Regions from separate parts of the Homo sapiens genome. Here region 1 is linked to region 2. The links come from fine-mapping of genetic effects on gene expression. A gene starts in region 2. The other region holds a variant in brackets. All regions are shown on one strand. Distances are from middle to middle.

The links.
Region 1: its variant is fine-mapped to the expression of ARSG in whole blood (TOPMed, PIP above 0.99).

The regions. Positions count from the first base shown.
Region 1 is chr17:68,313,219-68,316,124 of GRCh38, reverse strand. The region is part of intron 2 of ARSG (arylsulfatase G); the gene reads right to left. Among named protein-coding and RNA genes, the nearest start is that of ARSG, 23 kb to the right of the region's middle. The variant C/T (reference allele first, on the strand shown) is at 1,667.
Region 2 is chr17:68,290,294-68,293,199 of GRCh38, reverse strand. It overlaps ARSG (arylsulfatase G), which reads right to left and starts at 1,705. Exons shown (of 12, transcript NM_001267727.2): 1 at 1,632-1,705. It overlaps SLC16A6 (solute carrier family 16 member 6), which reads left to right and starts at 2,073. Exons shown (of 6, transcript NM_004694.5): 1 at 2,073-2,114. RefSeq lists an enhancer at 618-847 and silencers at 1,707-1,881, 1,248-1,937.

The sequences.
Region 1 (2,906 bases), 23 kb before region 2:
AAAGCATATGTTCAAGGAACAGAAACATGTGCAATGTGAGGAACATGAGGAGAGGGTTGGAGATGAAGCTGGAGTAGGCAGGATAAGATTGCAGGCACCTGAAACTGCAGCCATCACACATCCCTGGCTGGGTGAGCCTCCTGAACGATGGTTGCATCAACCATTTTGATGACTGACATCTAAATCCCATTTCTGCCTGGGTGCCACCCACGCACTTTGTAATCCCAGCACTTTGGGAGGCCGAGGCAGGTGGATCACCTGAGGTCGAGTTCAAGATCAGCCTGGCCAACATGGTGAAATGCTGTCTCTACTAAAAATACAAAAATTAGCCAGGTATGGTGGCACACACTTGTAGTCCCAGCTACTCGAGAGGTTAAGGCAGGAGAATCACTTGAACCTGGGAGGCAGAGGTTATAGTGAGCCAAGATCGCGCCACTGCACTCCAGCCTAGGCGATAGAGCAAGACTTCATCTTAAAATAAATAACTAAATACAATCCCATTTCTCAGGTTGCCTCTTATGCTTGGACAGCACAAAAATCCTTCATTAGCACCAAAGGGAGAAAAAAAATGATGAGATTCCAATCTCCTTTTTTTTTTGAGACAGGATTTCACTCCATCACCCAGGCTGGAGTGCAGTGACACGATCATAGCTCACTGTGGCCTCAACCTCCTGGGCTCAAGCAATCCTCCTGACTCCGCCTCCGGAGTAGGTAGGACCACGCCCAGCTAATTTATTGATTTTTTTGTAGAGATGAAGTCTTGCTATGTTGCCCAGGCTGCTCTCAAACTCCTGAGCTCAAGCAATCCTTCCGCCTCGATCTCCCAAAGTACTGGAATTACAGATGTGAACCACCACGCCTGGCCTCCTGCTCTTTGACAGCCATATGGGAAAGCTGGCCAAATCTTGATGGATTCTCTTTGCTGATTCCCCAGTTCTGCCCAGCCCTGAAAGAATAAGGCTCTAGAATGAGGAAATCTGAGTTTGAATATTGGCTTGGCCACTCACCAACTCTGGGCGTGTTACTTAACCTCAATTTCCTCATCTGAGATATAAGAGAAAAGTAGGGTGGTACCAAGAATTAGCCAGGGTAATGCCTAGAGCCTGGCACCTTGCAAGAGCTTGGTAAGGGTTAGTGATTGTTGCAGCTGTTGTGTTGATTCAAATAAAGGTGTTGGCCCCAATGCACAGCCAGCATAGGGATTAACAGGAATTTGTCACTGGAACTCCACCTCATCCTTCCAAGTTTTGTCACTGGACCTTTTATCATGCAGATTAGCCAATTCACACTGACATTCCATTTGGACATTTCTAGTAACAATAACAAAAATAACCATAGCTAACATAGAACCCTATCTATTGTATGCTAGGCTCTATGCTAACTGATTACACAGATTACTTAATTTTTTATTTTTTATTTTTTTTATGAGACACTCTGTTGTCCAGGCTGGAGTACAATGGCATGATCATAGCTCACTGCAGCCTTGAACTCCTGGCATTAAGGGATCCGTGTGCTTCAGCCTCTGGAGTAGCTGGGACCACAGATGTGCAACACCACACCTGGTTTACAGATTACTTAATTTTTTTTTTTTTTTTTTTTGAGATGGAGTCTTGCTCTGTTGCCCAGGCTGGAGTACAATGGCGCAATCTCAGCTCACTGCAACTTC[C/T]GCCTCCCGGGTTCAAATGATTCTCCCGCCTCAGCCTCCCGAGTAGCTGGGATTACAAGCATGTGCCGCCACGCCTGGCTACTTTTGTATTTTTAGTAGAGATGGGGTTTCTTCTTGTTGGTCAGGCTGGTCTCAAACTCCTGACCTCAGGTGATCCATCTGCCTCGGCCTCCCAAAGTGCTGGGATTACAGGTGTGAGCCACTGTGCCCGGCCCAGATTACTTAATTTAACCCTCACAACATCCTGTGAGGTAGAGGTGCTATCATTGTCCCCACTTACAGAAGAGGAAAGCAAAACTCCAGGGGATGATGCAGTTTGCCCGGGGCCACAGATAGGAAGTGGCAGAGCTGGGATTTGAGCTCAAACTGTCTGGCTCCTGCCCTCTTAAGCATGACATTTAGTCTTTAATGCGACAGATACTGACTGACCACCTACTACATTATAGACTGCGTTAGAAGCGGAGTAAAAAGAGATATGTAGGCCAGGCATGGTGGCTCACGCTTGTAATCCCAGCACTTTGGGAGGCCAAGGCAGGTGAATCACTTGAGGTCAGGAGTTCAAGACCAGCCTGGCCAACATGGCAAAACTCCGTCTCTACTAAAAATACAAAAATCAGCCGTGCGTAGTGGCAGGTGCCTGTAATTCCAGCTACTCAGAAGGCCGAGGCAGGAGAATCGCTTGAACCCGGAGGCGGAGGTTGCAGTGAGCCAAGATTGCACCACTGCACTCCAGCCTGGGCAACAGAGTGAAACTGTGTCTCAAAAAAAAAAAAAAGAGAGAGAGAGAGATACGTAATACAGCTAATTGCACCAGACTGAACAGCGTTCCCCTCAATTTCATATCAATCCAGAACCTGTGACGTGACCTTATTTGGAGATAGCGTCTTCGCAGATGTCATTAAGTTAAGATGAGGTCATACTGGAGTAGGGTGGGCCTTCAATCCAAAGACTGGTATTTTTATTAGAGGAGGGGAGTCTGGACACTGGCATGAAAGAACGCCTCATAACAACTGAGGCGGAGATAGGAGTCTAGAAGCCCAGAATGCCAAGGATTCCAGCAGGCACCAGAATCCAGGAGAGAGGCAAGGAATGGATTCTCTGTCAGAGCCTTCAGTCATAACCTTGATTTTGGACTTCTGGCTCTCCGAACTGTGAAAGGACAAAGTAATGTTTTTTTGTTTTTATTTTTGTTTTTTTTGAGATGGAGTCTCACTCTGTCACCCAGGCTGGAGTGCAGTGG
Region 2 (2,906 bases):
ATTATCTTACAGGCAGCCCTGCATTAGCATGAAGTGTTCAAATCAGTTTCTAAATATCATTATATATGGATCCTTTGAAGAACAACTCAAAAAAGGGCTCTCTCTCACAGGGAGTGTGTTGGAGTCAGCAATTAATTGGCCTTGGTAAAGCATAAATCGTAACAGCAGCAAGAGCTAATGGGTACTGAGGCCTTACCAAATGCCAGTCACTGCGATCCGCACTTTACAAGTACCATAAATTAAACCCTCCAATTCTGGGAATACCACCTCCATCCCCATTTTACAGATCTGGAGAAATTAACGCTCTACGAGGTTAAATTACGCCTACAAGGTTGCAAAGCTGCTCAGCGGCCCCTTGGCTGTACACTACTGGCCATACAAGGCACCCTGTACCAACGAATCTTCTCCCCACTTACACAACCAGAACTTGTCAACGGCAAAGGATGGCATTTAACTCAGGAGAGCCTATCCCAAAATGGTGAGAGAACTCAGCGAGCAAGGAAGGATTTTTATTAAAATTCAGATCGCCGACTCCTCCCGGTGGCGACCCTCCGTGCATGCACTCCCAAACTAGGCTCTCTTGAGTTTCTGACATCAGAACCACATTCTCCGAACCCCAATGAAGGCAGCAGCCGGCGCCAAAGTCTGCATACGAATGCAAATAACATGGCCTTTGCTTCCGAGCAGTTTCCAAATTTGCCCTCGGGATGTGAGGTAGAGACCAAGAAGCTAAGTTTGCGCCCCCGCAGGCTCTGAAATGTCTAGGATCTGACACATGCTTTGTCCCCATGAGGAGCTCCTGAGATTTCGCGTGCATCATCCGCTTAGTTCACGGTGACCTTGGGGTCGGGGACTACGGGATGAGGGGCACGGACTGTCTAAACCTCCAGGTCCCTTACAGAGGGCTCCCCGCGGGTATGGGAGCCATGCACCTGTGCCGACGCCGCCACTGCCTGGAGGGTGCGCGCGCGCCCCGGGCCGGGGATGCTGACTCAGCCCGGCTGCTCACATTCCTTTCGCGCAACGCGGATGCTGTTGCTGCCGCTGCTGCCGGTGCAGCAAAGTGGGGGAAGCAAGGCACCCGCAGCGGCCCGGCCGCTCGCTCCCTGGGGCCCACTGCGACACTCCCTCCCCACTGCCGGAAGGGGAACTGTGGGGGTGCGCGAGTTGACGAAACTGGGGGAAGTGGGCGCTGCAGGAGGAACTCAGGCGCCGCGCGCGCAGCTCACACCCAAACTGGAAGGAACCTGTTCTGCCCGGGGCGGGCGCGAAGCCGCCGCAGCCGCGAGCGCCGCGCGGGATCAGCCCCGGCGCGCGCGTGTTCCCCCTCGCCGCTAAATCCCTAAATCCTCAGGGCGCGGGCGGGACTGGGCGGTGGGCGCGCCGGGAAGGCGCCCGGGGGTGGGGACGGGGACCCGCGCGCTCGCGCCTGGCCGAGGTGCTCCGAGACAGGATGCAGGCACCCCCAACACCCTGCACGCTCGCGCTCCTACTAGCGTTGCAGCAAAGCTCCGGGGTCTGGGCGGGTCACGCGCGCAGAGGCGCACCCGGGTTGGGAGATCGGGGCGTTGTGCCAAGGACCCCGGCGGCGCTGGCGGGGGCGGCCCGGCCCCGGACCGCGACGCGGTTACCTTTCGTGACCCCCAGCCCAGGCGGCAGGCTGGCGGGCGCGCGACCGGCGCGGCTCAGGTCCACGTGGGACGGCGCGCGCGCGCCAGGCAGGCCCCCTCCTTGGCTGCGCTCAGCGCTCGCAGCACATGGTCGGCGGCGGCGCGCCCCCGAGGCCGGCGGAGACCGGCTGCAGCCGGTATAGGATAAGAGCTAGGCAGCGACGCGGGGCCGGGGCGCGGGCGGCAGCACGCACGGCCCGGGTCGCAGGCGGCCGGGGTGGGGGGCGGGGGGAGGGTGTGGCTCGGGTGCCCGAGTCGCGGGAGTGGGTGGAGGGCCCGGGCGCTCGGGCCTCACCAGCCCGAGCCAACTTGCGCTAGAGTCGGGCCCGCCCCCTAAGGGGTTAATCCTTTTCTCATGTTACCGAGCGGCTTATAAGGAGGGGGAGGCCAAGCCTCCGCCTTATTGGGAGCCTTTGGGGGTTTATTCTCTTCCCTTCTAACTTGGTGAGTTGGTTTATTATTTTACATGTTTAAAAGTTTGATTGTGGGATGTGGGTTGTTTTTTAAAAAATATGTGTTGGGGCCTTTTTTTGTGATGGGAGGCGGAGGAGACCACTGAACATCTTCACATTTTGGAGAGGTTATTCCCAAAAATATTCGCTCTGACAGTTAGGAATGCCCAGGGCCACCGGGATGACGCGCTCGCGCCGGTGTGGGTAGCTGAGAGTTGAATGTCCGTGACCCTGGTACAGTTGGGTCCCGGAAGATACCTAAAGGCACGCCTGGCCTTTGAGTGCCCCCTGCCCCGGGTTGGGGGCTCCGGGACGTCGGAAGAGTCGGGGGCTCCAGGCTCAGCCCCTCCGCGGATTTTCCGCATGAAGTTGCCTGCGCGTCGCAGGAGCGAAATGTCAGAGGTACCTTCCTACCCCAGGCTGGCGCGCGCACGCAGGCCGGGCACTGAGGCAGCGCGAGGGAAAGTGGGGCTCCCTGCCTCCCCCGACCCCCAAACACAGCACTCCCTGCGGCGGCCACCGTTTGTCCCCAGCGGGAAGCCGGGGATTTCCCGGCAGAGCGCGGGTCCTCCACCTGGACTGTCAGAACTGTCAGCGGCTGACGGCCGGTCCCGCGCAACTTCAAGGTTCCCGGGCTGCCAACCGCAGGAAAGCGCTGGTGTCGCCAAGCAGTTCCGTAGCAAGGGAAGATGGTTTTGCAGAGGAAATGGGTTATTTCCTTCTAGGTTGTTGTCGTCTTTTCTTTTTATTCCCCCCACCCTAGCAAGACAGGTCATAGAAGTTT